7 linked regions of the Homo sapiens genome follow. The protein of the gene in region 5 interacts with the protein of the main gene of each other region in a biochemical or structural test. Each region holds a gene or a part of one and is shown on either strand. Other genes may lie near its edges.

Region 1 (3,500 bases), on a different chromosome or scaffold from region 5:
AACTCCTCAAGAGGCTGAGGCGGGAGGATCACTTGAGCCCAGGAGTTCAAGGCTGCAGTGAGCTATTTCGAACCACTGCACTCTAGCCTATAAGCAACAGAGTAAGACCCTGTCTTAAAAAAGAAAAAGAAAGAAGGCAGATGCCTGATTCTGAGGAAGTCCCCGAGTTAGCAAGTGGTTATTGGATAAATGATCAAGTGCAACGCGTTGTACCAGCGTTGGCACAGCTGGGAAGACAGTTGCTCTGCAGCTCAGAAGGCAGGAGCCCTGGGAGGCCCTCCTGTGATCTCAGGGCTTGCTGGGTGCGCGAGACGCTCCATGACTGTGGCTCTGGGCCCTAGAGAAACCCCTCCACCCTTTGAGTTAATGGTGTTCAGTGGCTCCCAGCTGGGACCCCTGGTGACCATTCCAAGGTGAGCTGGCGTCCAGCCTGTCCTGAGGCCGAGCAGTGCTCCTGCTCACCAGATCTGGCCTTTAGTCATGCTTGGAAGGCAGGGCCGCTCAAGGTCTTCCTGCACTGTGCCCAGAGAGGGAAAGGAGAGTGGCCTGGGACACAGAGCCAGTCTGTCCTAGGACCCTCTCTCCAGCTTGCACCTGGAACCTCGGTGCTGGCTGAAGAGGAATCCTCATACTCCATCCCTCCTCCAGGGCCCAGGACCCTGTCCGGCGTCTCATGGCCCAGCGAGCGACTCTTGCCCTCCCCCTGCTACCACCCGCTGTGTTCGGGGGGTCTGGCCTCCCCCAGCAGCTCTGAGTCCCACCCCTACGCCAGCCTGGACAGCAGCAGGGCACCCTCCCCACAGCCAGGCCCCGGGCCCATCTGCCCCGACAGCCCCCCAAGCCCGGACCCCACCCGCCCGCCCAGCCGCAGGAAGCTCTTCACCTTCTCCCACCCTGTGCGAAGCCGCGATACTGACCGCTTCCTGGACGTGCTGAGCGAGCAGCTGGGCCCCCGGGTCACCATCGTGGATGATTTCCTGACCCCGGAGAACGACTACGAGGAGGTGGGCACGCAAGCAGGTGTGGAGGGAGGCGGGTGAGGCGAGGTGTGGCGGTCTGCAAGGCAACAGTGTTCCTGGGCTCCCGCAAGGGGCCTGCTGCCCTTGGGATCTTCCCCAGGCTATCCCACTCCCTAGCTCAAGCTATCCCACCCCTTGCCCCAGGTTACCCTATCTCCTGTTCAAGGTTATCATGCTCCTTGACTGAGGCTAGCCCATATTCCCTGTCGCAGGTTAGCCCATTCCTTAGCTCAGGCTATCCCACTCACAGCCTGAGGCTAACCCGTGACAGGGTCCTGTCCTTATTCCAGGCTATCCCCCTCACAGCCTGAGGCTTACCCATGAGAGGGTCCTATCCTTAGCCCAGGCTATCCCCCTCACAGCCTGAGGTTAACCTGTGAGACAGTCCTATCCTTAGCCCAGGTGTCCCTCACAGCCTGAGGCTAACCCGTGAGATGGCCCTGTCCTTGTCCCAGGCTATCCCATGATCCTTCACTTTGCACCTGCTCTAGTCTCTCTGGGCCCAGCCTCACCCTCCCCTTGCCTCTCTCCCCACCACCAGATGAGCTTCCATGATGACCAGGGCAGCTTCGTAACCAATGAGCGGAGCAGCGCCAGCGACTGCATCAGCAGCAGTGAAGAAGGCAGCTCCCTGACCTACTCCTCCATCTCTGACCACATCCCCCCACCCCCGCTCAGCCCCCCACCACCGCCACCCCTGCCTTTCCATGACGCTAAGCCCAGCTCCCGCAGCTCTGATGGTTCCCGGGGCCCTGCTCAGGCGCTGGCCAAGCCCCTCACCCAACTCAGCCACCCAGTCCCTCCACCACCCCCACCGCCCCTGCCCCCACCCGTGCCCTGTGCACCCCCCATGCTGTCCCGGGGCCTGGGCCACCGGCGCAGTGAGACCAGCCACATGAGCGTCAAGCGCTTGCGGTGGGAACAGGTGGAGAACTCAGAAGGCACCATCTGGGGTCAGGTAGGTGACCTGGGACCCAGCAGCGCTCTGTACTGGGGGAGGATGGCTTGGGCAGCAGCACTGAAGGAAAACCCATCGGCCAGGCATCTTCCAACATCATCCTCCCTACCCCAAGCAGAGGATGAGTAGAGGCCCAGCCCAAGAACGTCCCCACGCTTGGGGGCCACTGCAGGCATTGAAGCCAATCTGTGTCCCTCAGCCAAAGACACACACTGGGGACACCTGGAAATGCCACCCTACCCATCCTTGAAACCTATCACTTTTGAGGCCAGACAAGTTCTCTTAAACCTTTAAAAGAGCAGCTGGTTCAAACTCCTGCACACCAGCCTTCACCCTTTCACTTTGATGCTTGAAGTTCCTCCCTCACAACACTGGCAGTGTATGCTTGAACACCTTCAGTGGTGGGGAACTCACTACCTGTCAAGGTCTTCCTTTCCTCACTGGACGATTTTAACCATCCTTTGTCTTGCTCTGAAATCTTGTCTCCCCAGGATTCCCATGCCCTGTTTTCTTTCTGGCCCTTAAAATCGGGCAGAGCAATCTTATCCACAGACCAACCAATCTGCAAGATGAACAAGGTTCACCCCACCCCTTTTTTTTTTTTTCAGATCATTCTCTTAGAACATGGTTTCCAACCCCCACTCCAGTGTCCATGTCCCTGTCAAAGAGACATTCCCAGATGGAACCCCCAATGGGGCTTGACCAGCTCAGAGGAGAGAACAGGGTTCTCAGCTCCTTTGACTGGGACATCATACTCCTTTTAATATGGCAGGGGCTCCTTCCAGCTCCCAGGGCTGCCCCGTCCCAGTGCTCATGATCACCATCATCCTCAACTCCATCTTCTTGGGATCAATAGCTCACTCTCACATGTAGTCACACTGGGCAGAGGCATGCTTGTGATTTTTCCCCACTGCCATCTCCTGGGTCCCAATTCTGTCTCCTGCTTTCTCAGCCCACATCTCCAGGGACCCTTTCCAAGTTGCTAATAAAGATGCCCATTGAGGCCAGGCTTGGTGGTTCACGCCTGTAATCCCAGCACTTTGGGAGGCTGAGGCGGGAGGACTGCTTGAGCCTAAGAGTTCAAGACAAGTCTGGGCAACATAGTGAGATCTTGTCTCTACAAAAAAATCAAAAAGTTAGCCAGACCTGGTGGTGCATGCCTGTGGTCCCAGCTACTCGGGAGGCTGAAGAGGGAGAATCACTTGATTCCCACAGGTGGAGGTTGCAGTGAGCCAAGATGGCACCACTGCACTCCAGCCTGGGGTACAGAGTGAGACCCTATCTAAAAAAAAAAAAAAAAAAATACCTCAGTGAGACAAGGGCACAAATAAGGACCTCCTGGGTCCCCTGGAGACCTCACTCCTGCCAGCCTTGGACCGATCTTCAAGTATTGCTCCACAGCGTGGTTCTTCCATTGGTTACCAAAGGTGGACACAGGGACACAGGTCACACATGTGGCCAAACCCAAATCCATCCTCAGTGTCCCTGCCCTGCAGCCATGTTCTAAGACTTCATTCCCCTGC
Region 2 (2,325 bases), on a different chromosome or scaffold from region 5:
ATTAATGTGCTGAACGCTTTTTTTTTTTTTTTTTTTTTTTTTGCAACAACACCTTGGACCTCTGTGTTGGGGTTTGACTGACCTCAAGCTGATATTATTGGACCTTGTGCAGCTTTGATAACCCATGTGAGAGTCTAGGCAGGACCAGTGGGGCCCAAATCTTGCTGCTCTTGTACTTTTAGGCACTGCCCTTGCAGACTCACCTTTCTCCACCTGCCCTGGAGAAAGGTAGGGTGTGCTGGGCCTGCCCCTTGCAAATGGGATTCACCAGTTTCATTTATTTGACTCTACTGCCACAGTGAAAAGAGCAAACAGCTATTGGGTTGCAAACCTCCTTTGACATTAGGAAATGTTGACTTTGTAACAATAAAACTTTGGTCCTAGAAAGACACGGTTGTCCTGGGAGTTTGTAGTGTTAAGTTGCAACAACAACAACAAAAAGCAACAAAACCAGCTTAGGATAACACTTTTTGTTGCTTGTTCTTAAAGATGTCTCACTATGATTAAAACCCTTTTCATTAATGTAGTGAAAGCCACACAGGAGTTCCTTCTTCCAGGAGGAGAATACCAAGCACATCACTTTCTCTCTGCATCAGTGATGTCAAATACGCATCAGAAAATGTTCAGGTTTTAGGAGCTGTCCTAGGTGCTGTTTCATCATTGGAAGCAGTGAGAAAGAGAAGCACTGCTGCTTGTCTGGATATAGGCTGAGGATGATTGAGAGAAGCTGTGGGAACTGACACAAGGGTCTGCATAGGTCATCCTGTGACCCTGGGGACTATGTTACCAACTGACAGACAGATCTTTCACTGTATCCTAGCAGGGCAGGTAGTCCACCAAGAAATGTGCTTATTGGATTGGGAGGTGTTTATTTGTAGTCTGCTGTAACACGTGTGAAAGAGCAGGAGCGTCATCAGCATATGACTTGCGCTGGTCATCCGGTAAATGGATGTGCTGTAGTCCCAGTGCTAATCATTTCTCTCCTTCACAGTGGGTGGAAGTTTAGGGTTAAATGTCCTTTGAATGTCACCTGGTGAGTCCTTGACACCTTAGGCTCTTCAGAAACAATGGTTTTGTTGAGGATGGGGAACAGGGAATGCCGATTTTATATACATGGTACACAGAGAGGGGTGTCACTTCAGAAAATCTTCCAGCATGTTCTTCAGAATATTAATTTATATGCGAGGTGAGGTTGGGAATGAAAAGAACAGGTCAGCACTTTTTTTTTTCCTAGAACATACAAAAGAACATGGTGGACTTTCAGGGAGTGCAATGGAAGGTGAATATTTCCTTAAGGGTCCCCGAGAAATGGGAGTGAGGGGAGGGGACACAATGGCTTTTTGAGCTTACTTTTACCTTCTGATACTAGTCAAGGTCCAGAACCAGCCACCAGCCAAATTTCTATCTGGGTGCGGGCCACTGAAAATCCTTGTTAAAAACCAGATCACAAATCTGGGGCTCTTGGTCCCATTGGAGAAGGAAGGAAGAGCCTCAAAATAAGTGTGCACCCATGCACATATTCAGGAACAGCTTGTTTAGTCTTTACACTTTGCCTGAAAGTTGCTTCTCCTCGTCCCTTTGTGTGCCTGGGTGGCCTCGGCCCTGTGCGTTGGCAACGCAGGATCAAATGTGCTGCAGCTTTTGCAGAAAACAACTCAGAAACACAAAACCCCCCAACAGCTCAATTATTATTTTTTCAATGTTTTCCTACAAGAGCCAAGTAGCACCATGTACAGAAGACGCCTTTTTTTTTGGAATATTGAAATCGTTCTGCATGTAAAATATGGGATAATGACCTGTTTATATTAAAATTCTGATTAAATTATCTGAGAATACGCTTGTTTTTGTGTGGTGTCCCGGTAAGGACCTGTCGTGTGGTCGGGGGATGTGGCTATGAGTTGGGCTGTGTTAAGGAAAACCTCTTGGAATATGTAGGTGCCTTTTTTTAGAGGAGAAAAACACCTAGATTCTTCCACACATGAAAAGGGAGGTTAAATAGTTGCTACCAGCAGAGTTGATGACTCGTAGGGACATACTTGTATGGCCAAACTGGTGGTTTAAATATTGCACTATTTCCATACCATTTGGTAAGTAAGCGCTTCCCCAAGGGCTCCCAGACCTCCCCATGGTCCAACCACTAAAGGGTTCACTCCGAGAATACCAATGAACCTTCAAGATCTTGCTCTATTCTGACATGCGGGAAACTCATATGTTAAGTATTTTCAATGTCATCCTGGGAGTGGAGACCTGTCCCAGGTTGGGTGGACAGGTGAGTGACCATGGGTTAGACCATGGGATTGAAAGCCTTTTGAATAGTCTTTCTTG
Region 3 (2,243 bases), on a different chromosome or scaffold from region 5:
GAGGGAGCCCATGCAGGGTGTGGAGCAGGAGGCGAGGCCAGACCCAAGGTTGAGTGTGGAGGAGGATAGGCACAGAGGAGCCCAAGAAGGCCAGGGAGGAGCCTATCTCTTTGCTCCCAGACATGGCATAGGCTCAGTGCTGGTCTTGGGGACACAGGCTAGGGAGATACCAGCATCTGGGGCCCAGGCTGTGGGAGACGAGGCTCTAACTGCTGGATGGAACACTGGGGGAATCAATGGAGGGAATCATTAATGCTCAGAGATGAGTCTGGAAGACTTCCCCTAGGAGGGACCATCTGTTCCTTCTCCCCTCCAGGCCTTTGTACTTCCAGTTCCCTCTGCCTGGGGCATTGGGCCTCCCTCCCTCCATAGAAAGATGGAGACAGACACACAAACTCTACCCCTCCCTGCCTCAGCTCCCTTCGAATGGCTTCAGGACTTGAGTCTCAATTTAGGTGTCCCTTCCTCTAGGAAGCCTTCCCTGGCTTTTTCCATTCCCACCCGTGGTGCCTGCCAGGTGCCCCTCACACTGCACTGCCATGACCTGCTTATCTGCATCATACTCTGCACTGTAGCCCCAGTGCTTGGCACACTGGAAATGTTTAACAAATGCCTCAACTAAACAAATGAGGAGAAGATTGGCTAGTAGGAAAGGGCATTTTTGGCAAAGTGATCAGTTCAGGCAAAGGTTCAGGAGAAGGAACATTGGGGAATATGGATGAGTGACTAGGACTGACCCGAGTGCTCGCTCTGGGGAGAAGGCGGGCATCCTGGACACCTTCGAAAGGAAGGAAGACCCCGTAGGAATGGCTGGACACTGAGGGCAGAGGGGAGAGAGACAGGACAATCAAGGACTCCCTGGTTTCAGGGTCTGCCTGGGTGGGAAGGGTCCCTTCCCTGAGGCAGGGGCAGGCTTGGGGAAAGACACCGAGCTCCAATTGGCAAGGGCTGAGTCTGACATGCCTATGGCAAGGGATGTAGGGGCCAGTGGGCATCTGGAGTTCAAGGAGCTGCCAGAGAGGAAGGCATGGATGTGGGAACCATGGGCTGTCTCTGGTGGGAGCCCTGGAGGTGGGCACACCTGTTCCGCTCCTCCATCCCACCCCTCTGGACAGCTGCCTCTACTGTTCTCTCAATCCTCCACTTCCAGGTCCCCAGTCTCCTCTCCCATCACACGCGGCTGCTGGGGATCGCCTTCCTCAGGCTCCTGGGAGTTCTATCCTCCCAGCCTATCCCCTCTCCTTTTCTTGTTCACAGATCCCATGGACCTGATGCCAAGCTGCTGGCTGGTGGGGAGGATGTGGCTCCAGGCCCCCTGGGTCTGGGGCAGCTGCTGGCCGTGGCTAGCCAGGTCGCTGCGGGGATGGTGTACCTGGCGGGTCTGCATTTTGTGCACCGGGACCTGGCCACACGCAACTGTCTAGTGGGCCAGGGACTGGTGGTCAAGATTGGTGATTTTGGCATGAGCAGGGATATCTACAGCACCGACTATTACCGTGTAAGGGTCCTTTGTCCCCAACGCCTTCCCCTGCATCCAAACTGTAGACACCCTGGATCCCAAGACCACTGAGAGCCTGCCCTTGCTAGGATGGCTGCATGGGTCTGAGATTCACTGGCTCTGGTTTTCAACCTACCTCCTCGGCTCCTGGTGGAGGGGGCTCTGTCTCCTTCGCTATCCCAGATGGAAACAGCACCTTCGGTTTTTGCCTCTTAGACCTGAGAGCCACCACTGTTTGTTTATTTATTTATTTAATTTATTTTTTTGAGACGGCGTCTCACTCTGTTGCTAGGCTGGAGTGCAGTGGCACGATCTCGGCTCACTGCAACCTCTGACTCCCTGGTTCAAGCGATTCTCCTGCTTCAGCCTCCCGAGTAGCTGGGATTACAGGCCACACGCCATCACGCCCAACTAATTTTTGTATTTTTAGTAGAGATGGGGTTTCACCATGTTGGCCAGGATGGTCTCGATCTCCTGACCTCGTGATTGCCCACCTCGGCCTCCCAAAGTGCTGGGATTACAGGCGTGAACCACCGAGCTTGTGTATTTATTTTTAATGATGGGGCTGGGGTAGGCTGTGCCTTGACGGGCTGTCCCAGGCGCCCCTGGAATTGATGCAGTGTCCGCCCGTGGCAGGTGGGAGGCCGCACCATGCTGCCCATTCGCTGGATGCCGCCCGAGAGCATCCTGTACCGTAAGTTCACCACCGAGAGCGACGTGTGGAGCTTCGGCGTGGTGCTCTGGG
Region 4 (2,564 bases), on a different chromosome or scaffold from region 5:
TCTCCCTGGGGCTGGCGACAGTGGACATCCAGAACCCTGACATCACGAGTTCACGATACCGTGGGCTCCCAGCACCTGGACCTAGCCCAGCTGATAAGAAACGCTCAGGGAAGAAGAAGATCAGCAAAGCTGATATTGGTGCACCCAGTGGATTCAAGTGAGAGCCACTCCCCAGTGGACCCACAGATTCCTGGGGGCAGAGGGGCACATGAACAAGTGGACAGCTGAGTGAATGGAAGGATGGGCAGATGGGCAGATGGCTGGGTGGCTGAGTGGGTAAATGGGTGGTTGGATAGGTAGGTGCAGGGCTGGGTCTAGGGAGAGGTAAATAAGGCACCAAGGGTACAAAATTTAAGGAGGCACTCACTCTCAGAGGCATGCAACTGTAATTCCTGACTCTCAGAGTGAGTGACTCACTTAAATTTTGCACCCTAGGCACCTTACTTGCCTCACCCTGGGCCCACTCTGGGTGGGCTGTTAGGAGAGCAGGTGGGTGGGCAGGTGAACAAATGGATAGATAGATGAGGTAGATGATGGATGAGAAGGGCTGGTGGGTAGGTGGGTGAGTGGATGGGTGGATGGATGGATAAATGAATGGATGAATGAATGGGTTGAAGAATGAATGGATAAGTGGTTGGATGGACAAGTTTATGGGTGGATGGGTTGATGGGAGGTGCGTGGATAGATAGATGGGTGAGTGGATAGGTGTGTGGACAGATTGATATGCAGGCTGATTGGCTCACAGACAAGGTGGATGGGGATGGACAGGTGGACAGATACGTGGATGAATGGACAGTTCAATGGATAAGTGAACAGAAGTGTGTGGTTGCATGGGTAGAAAAATGAGTGGATGGATAGATGGAAAGGTGGGCACATGGGTAGGTGGATGGGTGGATGGACAAGTGTGTGTGAGGACAGACTGGTGGACAAATGGGTGAACAGACATATGTGGGCAGATAGTTGCAGAGACAGATGTATGGACAGATCAGTAGTCCAACAGATGAATGTGAATGAATAGGTGGACAAATGCATGGGATAGATGGGGAAAGAGGGATGGGTGGATGGATCAGCACCACAAACTATGGAGCCCTTCTAATTCCATAACTCCTGCCTATACTCATTCACTCATTCAGTCTCATTCATTAATTCTGGCCCCTCAGAGTCTCTTTGGGCAGGAGAGGGCAAGAGGGTTTCACTATGAAGGGAGGGAAGGAAGGGCAGTGAGGATTCACTGGAGTCTCTTCACCTCTCCCAGGCATGTCAGCCACGTGGGGTGGGACCCCCAGAATGGATTTGACGTGAGTAACTTCAGAGTCTCTTGGACTCCACTAAACTTCCACCCACCCTTCCAAAGACCACTGCTGAGACCCCACCCCCAGATCGTGCCCTTCCCACACCCCTCTCAGATCCCTTGCTGGGATGGACCCAACGACAATCCATGTCGCTTGTCTCCTCGCCTTATTCCTCTACTCCTGCCCCTGGCCTTTTTCCTCCTGGGCAGGTGAACAACCTCGACCCAGATCTGCGGAGTCTGTTCTCCAGGGCAGGAATCAGCGAGGCCCAGCTCACCGACGCCGAGACCTCTAAACTTATCTACGACTTCATTGAGGACCAGGGTGGGCTGGAGGCTGTGCGGCAGGAGATGAGGCGCCAGGGTGAGACCCTGCTTCCATACGCTCCCTTCTCTAGCCCAAGCAGCTCATAGCTAAGATACGCACTAAGTCACTCAGTCCTTATGGGAGCACCTATACTGCTTCAGTCAGGAGTTGGTCAGTGGGGGTACCCATTTTACAAATGAGCAAAACTGAGGCTCAGAAGAAATCAATGAGAGTTACAGCTATGTGTTATACCCCCTCCACAGAGCCACTTCCGCCGCCCCCACCGCCATCTCGAGGAGGGAACCAGCTCCCCCGGCCCCCTATTGTGGGGGGTAACAAGGGTCGTTCTGGTCCACTGCCCCCTGTACCTTTGGGGATTGCCCCACCCCCACCAACACCCCGGGGACCCCCACCCCCAGGCCGAGGGGGCCCTCCACCACCACCCCCTCCAGCTACTGGACGTTCTGGACCACTGCCCCCTCCACCCCCTGGAGCTGGTGGGCCACCCATGCCACCACCACCGCCACCACCGCCACCGCCGCCCAGCTCCGGGAATGGACCAGCCCCTCCCCCACTCCCTCCTGCTCTGGTGCCTGCCGGGGGCCTGGCCCCTGGTGGGGGTCGGGGAGCGCTTTTGGATCAAATCCGGCAGGGAATTCAGCTGAACAAGGTGAGGACAGGCAGGATGGAGGATTGGGGGTCTAGGACTCTGGGGTGTCCCGTCTAAGTCAGGATACTGGGGGGCTGAGGCCAGGACTGAGGAGAGTGCCAGGCCTTAGGGATTCAGTGATAGGGTTGAAAGGTTGGTGGGAAGCCTTGAAGGGGACTGGAGTGTGTGGGAGAGAAAATATTGATGGAGGGGCGGGGAGAAATGCTCCTTTCCCAGGCCCTAAGCCCTCTGTGCTGATCCCTGCCTGCTGCAGACCCCTGGGGCCCCAGAGAGCTCAGCGCTGCAGCCACCACCTC
Region 5 (2,769 bases):
AACAACCCACTTAATTGACTAAAAAAAGAGTCTAGCTCATTGCTTTCCTGATTCTCCTCAGCATCTGGCAGTTGTAGTGTTCCTGTGTTCAAGCTTTACTTGAACTTTACAGAGCTTCCTGTGTCACCTCTGGTTGGAGCGGAGGGGCTGTAAAGGTGTCTCTCATCTAGCACATGCAACTTAGCATGCTCTCTTGAACATCTTATCTCAGGACTAGCTTACGCAGCTCTTGAAAAGCAGAGTATTCCATGTTGTTAAATCTATGTATTGAGAAGATGAGATAAACCCTGGTAAATTATGTAGTTTATGAAAACTCCATTGACCTGGCCTTTGCATTCAAATTCTTTAACTTGGCCCATAGCTTCTTTCTCCTTAGCACTTCTGGTCCTCCAGCACCATTCTGACAAACTTTATGAAAGCCAAATCAAGATAAATAGAACCTCAGTGCTGATCATCATTAATGTTTAATGCATACCCAGATGGCATGACAGCAGCCAGCGTGGCCTTTTTGTTGAAGTTAATTGACATAAAAAGTAAATAAAACCCTATTCTTCCTAACAGGCCCAGTTCTGGTGATGATTTCACTTTTGACAGAAGCTGTCCCTCAAAAGCAAACATGCAATAGAAGAAACAGATCTCAGTAAGTAGCTTATTTTCCTTACAAACACTACTGAAATTTCTTATTAATGCTCCTAATTTTCCCATTATGCACTGCAGCGTGAGTATGGCTCCAGAGGCTGCACCTAATAACTTCCTTGAGCTCTAATGATTATTGGTATCTTTTACTAATGTGTATCTGTTCTAAACTACACAAAAGCATACAAAGCCATCTCCCTCTTTTAAAAACTTGAAAATGTGGGTATCACCTTTAATTAAATATTTTAAATTTCTCTCTCCAAATCAGATTTATCTATGTGTGGGAGTTTAGATAGTCCCAAGACTTTTGCTAAGACAGTATTTCCAATTTAATCTTAAGTAGAAAAATGTATGTAATTAAGAGATTTATTATAAAACATTTGGCAAAGAAGGAAAGAAAACAGTAACTATGTAGGTAGTTTTTATTAGATTGCTATAGGAGTAATAGGGAATTTTTAGAGGACTAGTTTCAAAATTACACACCTGCAGAAGTTTTCATTCTTCTACCTACTGTGAGGTATGGTATTACAAACTAAGAAGCATTAATGGAGAATAACTAAAGGGTCTCATAACTGAGTTGTATATAATATTGCTATCTTGCTATTGTTAAAGATAGCCCTGATTTTAGGATGTAGCTATTTTAGAGAGTCAAAATGGAAATAACACATTGTCCACATAGCTACTGTGAAAGCTGTAATACAGAGTTATCCTTTATTTTGACACATTTTTAAAAAACTGTGAATATAACTTTGTAACTAATAAGGGATGTTCACATGAAGCAGTTCTTAAGCCTTCTAACTTCTTAAGGGATCTCTTAACCAGCATAAATGGAACTGTTTCAAGGCCATGACATTAACAGACCTTTTTAGGTCCCAGTAGCCTGCTAGTCTGTAAAAGAAAACAATGCTATCCACTCCATTAAAATACAGAAGGCATACAGTATTGAACAGTGCCTAAAATAAAAAGGAGAGGAGGACTGAAGAAAAGTACAGCATTGCCTGCTAGTAGAATGCAACCACTTCAGCAATAATAATAATAAAAGCAATATTCACTGTCATAACAAAGACCTTCACTGTATTGAACTAAAAAAAAGTAGCATGTATGTCGTCATGGAATGTCACATCAGGGTTTGCTGTTGTATAAGATTATAGGCAGTAACACTGATCATATAGTGCAAACTAGGTAAAATTGCGTTTCACTGTGTGAAATGAACAGAGGTGCAAATGCTCAGTAGGATACCATTAAGACATAAAATGGCAAAAAATAAATATCAAAACTTTTATCAGTGTAAAAAAGTAACTGGGTTATTGTATAACCTAGAGTCTGGCAAAAAAGGCCTCAAAAAAGTTCTCAGTCTTCAGAAGTTTACAAATTAAGTGCCCTTTCAGGATTCCAGTCACACTAGGGACTCCATGCTCTCAGCAGGGTCTGATTCATCTGCAATAAGAACAGCACCATTTTTGTCTACTGTCATGGGACCATTTCCATTTTCTTTAGTGCTGACCAAGCTAAGCATTGCTTTATAGATGAACTGGTATTGTTCCTGAAAAACAAGAGGAAGACAGTTTGAGCCAAAGAACAGTTTAGTGATTTCACATAAGGTGGAAATACCAATTAAAATGGTAATTGTGAAAAACACACTAGAGAAACAGCAATAGCATAAATGTTATCTAAAAAAACTAAAAAAAAAATCATTTGAATTTATTATAGTCAAGACCTATACCTTCTTCATGTCCTTTTGATCTCTGTTAGCTTGGAACCAATTCTCAGTGCTGATTGTTAATGAACAATCATTATTGGTTAATGAAGATAACCAATATCTGGTTAATATCTGGTTAATGAAGATAACCAGAGAATACTATCCTCTAAAGCAGGGCTTCTCAACCTGAGCACTACTGACATTTTGGGCCACATAATTCTATGGTGTTGAGGGCTGTCTTGTGCTGTGTAGTTTGCTTAGCAGCATCTCTGGCTTGTATCCTCTAGATGCCATCCATCTGCAGTTGTGACAAGCAAAAAAGTCTCCAGACATGGCCAAATGTCCCCTGGGGGGCAAAATCACCCCCAATTGAGAACTACTGCTCTAAACTGTGAGTCTGAGTTTCAACTGATGTAGTACAGGTTTTACACATA
Region 6 (3,500 bases), on a different chromosome or scaffold from region 5:
TAAGGACATGCCTGGGAGACAGGTATGTTCCTTTCTCCAAAGATGATTTTGAGGGCTTTAATATTTAAAGTAGGCTGAAGAGCAAAGAGGGAAGGTATGGTAATCCACATGTTGCCAGAGGAAAGGAGCAGGCAAGGGAATAGTCAATTACGTATTTTCTTTTGCTTAGTAAGTTGGGACTTTACATAAGATAAGGTGAACATAGAGTAATTACCTGTGGAGATATTTAACCTGTTATCTGTAGCTATCTGCTTGGGAACAAAAGGAAAAGCAGTTTATTGCATGACTCAGCTTGCAGCTTAATTTTTTCTCTTGACATGGTGGATTGGGGTCCCAAGTTTTTGTTTTGTTTTTAGTGTCAACAGCCTAAAATAGGCAATAGGAAAGAAAATACTGTATGAGAGATGTCATAGTGTTAGACTGTGGAGTTTGGCAATCTATTGTATATGAAAGTTGACAGCAGAGAGAGTTTAAAACTATTATTAAAATTTTAGCCTGGGCTGGGGCACAATGTCTCACACCTATAATCCCAGCACTTTCGGAGGCTGAGGCAGGAGAATCACTTGATCCCAGGAGTTCAAGTCTCCAGTCAGCCATGATCACACCACTGTGACAGCCTGAGGGACAGAGCAAGACTCTGTCTCAAAAAAAAAAAAAAAAAAAAAAGTTTGAAGGAATGATAGTGGCAATAAGAAGCAAGGTATGTATTCTGATTTTTGTGGGAAGTAATAAAGAGGTTTTGGATATGTTGAATTAGGGTCTAGCAGAGTATACAGGTGTAGGCATCCAGCAAGAAACTGGCAAATCCAGAAGTACAAGTAGGGATACAAATTTGGGAGTTATCTTACAGATTATGGTTGAAACTGTTAAAGCTCACAGTGGGAGAGAAAGAAAGAAGATAGAGGATTGATACTGAAAAACCTTGACTCACCTTAAGGAGAAAGAAAGGGAAGAGGAAATCCGGAAAGGAATAATTTAAGAACAAAGAATGCTAAGTGTTCATATGCCAAGATAGGAGAAAATTACAAAAGGGAGGAGGTGGTCTGAAGACAAAAACGGCTATAGGATTTGGTGATTGGAAGTTATTGGTGACCTTTAGAAAAACATGTTCTTCCCTTCTACCTCATACATTGTGAGATTACAGGGGAATAGAGAATGAATGCTGAAGAAATAGAGGTAGTGCATGCAAACAGTTCTTAGAACAAATTTAGCAGTCAAAGAAAGAGGAAAGAAGATGGGAGGAGAGTGATAATGCGTTCCAAGAAATAGTTGTATTGTTTTCTTTATAGAGGTGTATAATTTTAGTTGAGAGAAGGAGCAGAGAAAGATAATAGTTAAGTAATCAAGAAGACAGAGTGTCTGTGAGTTTTGTAAGGAGGTTAGAAGAAGTATGATCAAGATCATCAGTGGATGGTTTCACCTTGAAAAGGAAATAGATCTAATTCAGAGACTAGGGGAAAGGAGTAGTGAGAAGATATAAAGAAACTTTGAGGGAGAAGGAAAGAAAATGTAGAAAGCATTTATCAGAAGTCCTCAGTGTTCTCACAAAAGATAAAGGAATCAGCTAGGGAGAGAGGTAGAAATGGGGTTGGAGACGGTGGTGGAAAAAGGTCTGGAACAGCTATCACTGCGTGTTTATTAAGGAGTTCAGCAAATGAGTAGAAGCGGTTTTAAGGATGAGCTGGAGTCAGCTAGTATGGGTCTATGGTGGAGAATGAGAATATACCTTTCTCCCAGAATATTCAACTTAATGATGGCAAGAAAAGGATTGCAGAATATGGCCCAGGACTGGAAAGATGGCAGAAGATCTTGGGGACAAAGGATTCTAATGATTTACCAAGTGCTTTGTTGAAATTACAACAGGAACTCCTAGATGGGCAAGGATGCAAGTAAAGTCTAAAAAGGTTACAAGGAGGAAATTCAGTAGATGAATAGAAAGTATGAAAAGAGTGGAAATTGTTGTCAGGTTTTTAAGAGTTTGAGATATTGGAGCTGAAGCATGTCTAATATTGAAGTCTAAGTTTACGTCAATTGGTGACTGAAGTGGAATGGAGTTGGAAACTATTGGTTTACAAAGGTAGACTGTCTATAGGGCAGAAGTGTTGGTAGATTCATTCACCAACTGTATTGGCAAGAGAGAGAGTAGAGGGAAGATTATGAGTGCCTTGGAGAAGGAAGATTGCGACAAGGAAAATGAGAGAGTTGAGTAAGGGAGTGACTTGAGCATTAGCTGAGCAGAGGATAGTTGGTGAGTCAAGATGGAAGAATAACAGTGCAGAAGGAACAGTGAAATGCAAGGACACTTTGATCTTTCTTTCATTATTTACAAATCCTAGCCCTAGCTCCAGCACAAATCTCACTGAGCTTCAAGTTTCTTTATCTGTGGAAACGAGATAAAAATAATGTCTACCTCATAGGGTTATCATGAGAATTAAAAGAGATAATGTATGTAAAGTACAGAACCTATCAAAAGAAATATATCAGATGTTCTTATTGCTGCTACTGTTAACGATGACATTGACAAGTATAAAAGATATGTAATCTTGCACTAAGTGGGCTGTGCTGTGTCACTGAATACAGCATAGGATAGATAGATTATTACTTGTGGCCGATGTCACTCCTAACTGCAAAAAGTATTAATACAAGTATTCCTTCACATCTCTCACCTCTAAGTGGTAGGAGTGACCTACACTGAAATTTTTTTAAGGATTTATATCATCACAGGAATATGGTTTTTACTAAGTTTTGATTAAAAAATGACTAATTTACTAATTTGGATATAATGGATAGGAGTATCCGTGGAATCACAGGAAGTTGTTCACTATGAAAAGCCCAATAGAATGGGCTAGTATAGATTTATATGACATCAAAATAAATTGGTGGAGAGTTTCATAGAGTTATATTTCTACAGTTGCAGCTGGCAATGCCAGGGCTTAGGAATATAAAGGTTAGGGTGGTAACCTGGAAGACCATGCTATCTTTAAGGAAGCAGGTTAACACTCATGGAAGAAATGCTAATACGGTAACAGATTCCCAAGTGTCAAAACGAGACAGGCATAGAAGCTAAGAGGAAGGAGAGACCACTTTTTATTTTACATAGGTTCTCTTCAGATGGCCTGTGGAACTTCAGTTCTAGGAAAACATAGTTTTGAAAATGAAAAAAGTTCTAAGTTCTGAGCTCTAAGTAACTTTGCCCATACTCCTAGTCCTTGCAATTTGCTCTGAAGGAGTTTGTTATTTAAAGTTTGGCCATTTGAAAATAAATTGTTGACTTCTAATAGCCTTCTTCCTTTCTTACTACTCTTTGGTGTTTTGACAGGTAAATGGCCAAGACCTAAAGAACCTGCTGCACCAGGATGCTGTAGACCTCTTTCGTAATGCAGGCTATGCTGTGTCTCTGAGAGTGCAGCACAGGGTAGGTATCACTTTGAGCCAGAAACCTGGCACCAGGCTTTTGCACTGTACTTCTGAATAAGCCCAATGTGTGTAATCTTCAGTGT
Region 7 (3,500 bases), on a different chromosome or scaffold from region 5:
TGCCTCCTGGGTTCAAGCGATTCTCCTACCTCAGCCTCCTGAGTAGCTGGGATTACAGGTGCCTGCCACCACGGCCAGCTAAATTTTGTATTTTTAGTAGAGATGGGGTTTCACCATGTTGGCCAGGCTGGTCTCAAACTCCTGACCTTGTGATCCATCCACCTTGGCCTCCCAAAGTGCTGGGATTACAGGTGTGAGCCACCGCACCTGGCCTACTCTTTTTTCTTATGGTAAATGAAGCATTAATCTTTTTCCTCAGAATTATTTTACAGTTGGTTTTAACTTACTGTTGTTAAATTAATACTGACAGCATTATGTATCGCAGATCTAGTTATCCATACTAAATATGTTTAGTTTACACACACAAACACTGATAGTATCTTACTGTGAAATGCTAACAACTCTGTAGAGCAGCACTTTTCAACTATTTTGTGCCTTGAGACCAGTACAGCCGATATTCACATGCATAGCAGAACTTCCATAAGGAATTCTTTTTATGATCACTGAAACCCAGTCTTTCTTGCCCTTCAAAAAAACGTGTTGGTATTTAGTTAATGACAATGATTTTATCATAATCATACACAGAATTCTGCTGTATTTATTAAGTAAATTATTAACAAACTTTGGTGACTTATTAGTACTAAATCATTTTGTGCATATTCTTTTAATGTCACATTAAAAACATGGAACAAAGAAAAAATAATTTATATCATCTTGAAGTACAAATTTTCTAGTAACTTTTTTTTTTTTTTAAATTTTGTGAGATGGGGTCTCACTCTGTCGCTCAGGATGGAGTGCAGTGGTGCAACGTTGGCTCACTGCAGCGTCCACCTTTCAGGCTCAAGTGATCCTCCCACCTCAGCCTTCCAAGTAGCTGAGACCACAGGCATGCCACCATGCCTGGTTAATTGTTAAGGTTTTGCCTTGTTGCCCTGGCTGGTTCTAGTAACTTTTAACCACATTTAAAGTAATCATTTTGTGAAAAGAAACTCTAATTAGAAGAAATATTTTTGTCCATTTATCTCATCTAAAAGCTAACATTTAATAGTATCTGAGTTCAGTGACTTTGCATGCAAGACATAGATTGACATTAATCTCATAAATTTTTTTTTAGATTTATTTGAATTAAGTATATGACTAAAGGAGTTCACATTAATTCCTTTAAAAATTTTTTTTACTGGTTTTTCCCTTGAGGATACCTGTTCTTTTCAGAGTTTTCATATTTTTTTTATATCTGAGAGACATCAAGAAGTTCGTGAGTATTAGTTTTATCACTAATTTGAGATTCATGCAAAAGCTACTTATGTTCACTAATTTTCCTGAATTCTCACTGTAGTGAATATAATGAAAAATCAATGTACTCTTTTCCCAATATGAAGGGTCCAACAGATACAATTGCTAGGACGAGATATGAAGGGACCTGCTCATGATAAGCTTTGGAACCAATTAGAAGCTGAAATACATTTGCATCGTCACAAAACTGTGATCCGAGCCTGCAGAGGACGTAATGACTTGAAACGACCAATGCAAGCACCACCAGGCCATGTATGTTTGCTTTGCTGCTGCTTCCCACCCAGCCTCTTCTTTCTTTCTTTAATCACAGTTGCTTTCCATTCTTTCCTTTATTCTAGTATTGTTTGAAACCTTTATTTAAAAGTGAAAATGGGATTCAACTTATTCAAAGTAGATGAAGTTTCAACACCCATAGAAATTTTAGTAGCTCTTCACAGACTTACTAATGCCCTGAGAGTGCTGCAGACAGTGAGCCATTGTTAGCAAATGCATATTGCTATAATGTTGGATCATATTTCCAGTTTTTCCTGGATCATGATTGGGCATGCTTGAATTTGTTTTAATCTTAGCTTAGAGTGTGTGGTCATATTGATAATTTGGCAGATATTTTGGGGTAGTTCTTTAAGGGAACTTTTAGTAACTGAATCCAAATGTAGATTCTGAACTAACATTTACACCTGTTTGGTCTTGGATTAAGATAGAATTTGAGATCTGTAGCCAGTTGTCTGCTTCTGTAGCCACCATTATATAAAAGCTTCTATCTGGATAAATCTTTATTGAATTTTATCATAACAGCTGCTTGATAATATAGACCTTAATATATGAAAGCATGTCTCCCAAGGGTTCACATATCTTAGTACCAGATAATGTATGGCCTTAAATAGTAAAATAGTTTGTTGGCTCTGCAAAGATTTTTGTAAGAAGAATTGGTATGTAAATAGAGTTGGTGGAAGAGAAGTGGGGATAGCGATAAGCACTTATGCCATTGTTTTCTAGGGCACTGGTGGTTCCCATTAACTTCTAGGTCCAGTAGATTTGGGAAATGGAGCGGTTAGGAGGAAGACAAAGTAGTTTGTATCAGATGTGTCTGAGTGATAAAAGCATGCTTGTTAAATTAGCTAAATATGAGGTTGGGGTTTTAGGTAGTGGCTGGATTATAGAAATTATTTTATACTAAATAGAGGAATTTTAACTTTAACCTGATAATCATGGAAGTTTTAAATAAAATGGCAGACTTCATAAAATTTACATTTTTTAATAGTTATTTTGGTATAGTGAAGAGGACCAAGTTGGAGTCAAGGAGATATATTAGAAAGATACTATGGTCATCCAAGGAGAAAGTGATGAGGTCAGGAGAAGTGGCATTTGAGAAGAAGGATAGATTTGAGAGGATTATAATCAGGAGGGCTTGATTGGTGACTAACTGCTTTTGGTTAAATAGTGAAAAAGAAGAGTCTGGGCTTTTAGTTTGAGCAACTGAGTGAGATCTGGCATTCACTGGGAAGGGAAATAGAAGAAAAGGAAGGATTTGGGGAAAAGATGATGAGATCAGTTTTAGACAAGTAGTGTTTGAGGTGACAATGGGGTATCCAAGATACATCCAACTGGACATATGACTCTGGATTTCAGAAGAGAAATCTGTTTTGAAGAAATATTAGGGAAACTATCCTTCTATTATACTTGAAACCTTGGAACTCATTAAGCCTGTTCCAAGTATATATGTATATATAAAGTATATATGTAGTAAAAAGAATAGGAGGCCAAGGATAGAAACTTATGGAGTGGGAGAAGGAAAAGGATCACTAAAGGAAGGAGCCTGGGATGGAGCTGTCAGATACAGGCCATCTAGGAAAGTAGTGTAATAAAAACTAACAGAGAGAGTGGGTTTCAAGGAGGGGTTGATGAACAGTATCAACTTTCTGCAAGTTTGAAGTAGGATAGTGACAAAAAGTGTTAATTGTGTGTAACAATATTGATTACTGGTGACCACAGAAAAGAAAATTCCAGTTGTGCATGTAGGGGCAAAACTCTAATTACAGAGACCAGAGGACTGAATGTGAGTGGCAAGGAAGTAGATATGATGAGGATGAACTTCGTGTAGAGGTTAAGGAAAGGGGGAGGATGGTAGTTGCTAAGGAAGATAGTGAAGGATTGAAAGGTTTTTTGTTTTGTTTTGCATTTGCACATGATCAGTATTTTAAAACTGG

Evidence for each region.
Region 1: the proteins of PTPRG (region 5) and GRID2IP interact in a test that uses a peptide from one of them, tested with the Homo sapiens proteins (one large-scale study listed by IntAct).
Region 2: of the proteins of PTPRG (region 5) and INSR, one has a biochemical effect on the other in vitro, tested with the Homo sapiens proteins (one large-scale study listed by IntAct).
Region 3: of the proteins of PTPRG (region 5) and NTRK1, one has a biochemical effect on the other in vitro, tested with the Homo sapiens proteins (one large-scale study listed by IntAct).
Region 4: of the proteins of PTPRG (region 5) and WAS, one has a biochemical effect on the other in vitro, tested with the Homo sapiens proteins (one large-scale study listed by IntAct).
Region 6: the proteins of PTPRG (region 5) and SYNJ2BP interact in a test that uses a peptide from one of them, tested with the Homo sapiens proteins (one large-scale study listed by IntAct).
Region 7: the proteins of PTPRG (region 5) and GOPC interact in a test that uses a peptide from one of them, tested with the Homo sapiens proteins (one large-scale study listed by IntAct).

The regions. Positions count from the first base shown.
Region 1 is NC_000007.14:6,506,462-6,509,961, reverse strand, and holds part of GRID2IP (delphilin), read left to right. Parts: intron 1-648; coding exon 649-1,004; exon of another isoform or gene 1,005-1,056; intron 1,057-1,560; coding exon 1,561-1,977; intron 1,978-3,500.
Region 2 is NC_000019.10:7,111,765-7,114,089, reverse strand, and holds the end of INSR (insulin receptor isoform Long preproprotein), read left to right. Parts: 3' UTR 1-1,825; downstream 1,826-2,325. UniProt on the Homo sapiens protein: Receptor tyrosine kinase which mediates the pleiotropic actions of insulin.
Region 3 is NC_000001.11:156,877,865-156,880,107, forward strand, and holds part of NTRK1 (high affinity nerve growth factor receptor isoform 2 precursor), read left to right. Parts: intron 1-1,257; coding exon 1,258-1,498; intron 1,499-2,134; coding exon 2,135-2,243. UniProt on the Homo sapiens protein: Receptor tyrosine kinase involved in the development and the maturation of the central and peripheral nervous systems through regulation of proliferation, differentiation and survival of sympathetic and nervous neurons.
Region 4 is NC_000023.11:48,686,799-48,689,362, forward strand, and holds part of WAS (actin nucleation-promoting factor WAS), read left to right. Parts: coding exon 1-157; intron 158-1,255; coding exon 1,256-1,298; intron 1,299-1,501; coding exon 1,502-1,655; intron 1,656-1,861; coding exon 1,862-2,268; intron 2,269-2,521; coding exon 2,522-2,564. UniProt on the Homo sapiens protein: Effector protein for Rho-type GTPases that regulates actin filament reorganization via its interaction with the Arp2/3 complex. Important for efficient actin polymerization. Possible regulator of lymphocyte and platelet function.
Region 5 is NC_000003.12:62,292,571-62,295,339, reverse strand, and holds part of PTPRG (receptor-type tyrosine-protein phosphatase gamma isoform 1 precursor), read right to left. Parts: intron 2,727-2,769; exon of another isoform or gene 2,623-2,726; intron 2,180-2,622; coding exon 2,033-2,179; 3' UTR 1-2,032.
Region 6 is NC_000014.9:70,375,591-70,379,090, reverse strand, and holds part of SYNJ2BP (synaptojanin-2-binding protein), read left to right. Parts: intron 1-3,319; coding exon 3,320-3,415; intron 3,416-3,500. Other genes in the region: SYNJ2BP-COX16 protein, read left to right, coding at 3,320-3,415. UniProt on the Homo sapiens protein: Regulates endocytosis of activin type 2 receptor kinases through the Ral/RALBP1-dependent pathway and may be involved in suppression of activin-induced signal transduction.
Region 7 is NC_000006.12:117,571,512-117,575,011, reverse strand, and holds part of GOPC (Golgi-associated PDZ and coiled-coil motif-containing protein), read left to right. Parts: intron 1-1,379; coding exon 1,380-1,545; intron 1,546-3,500.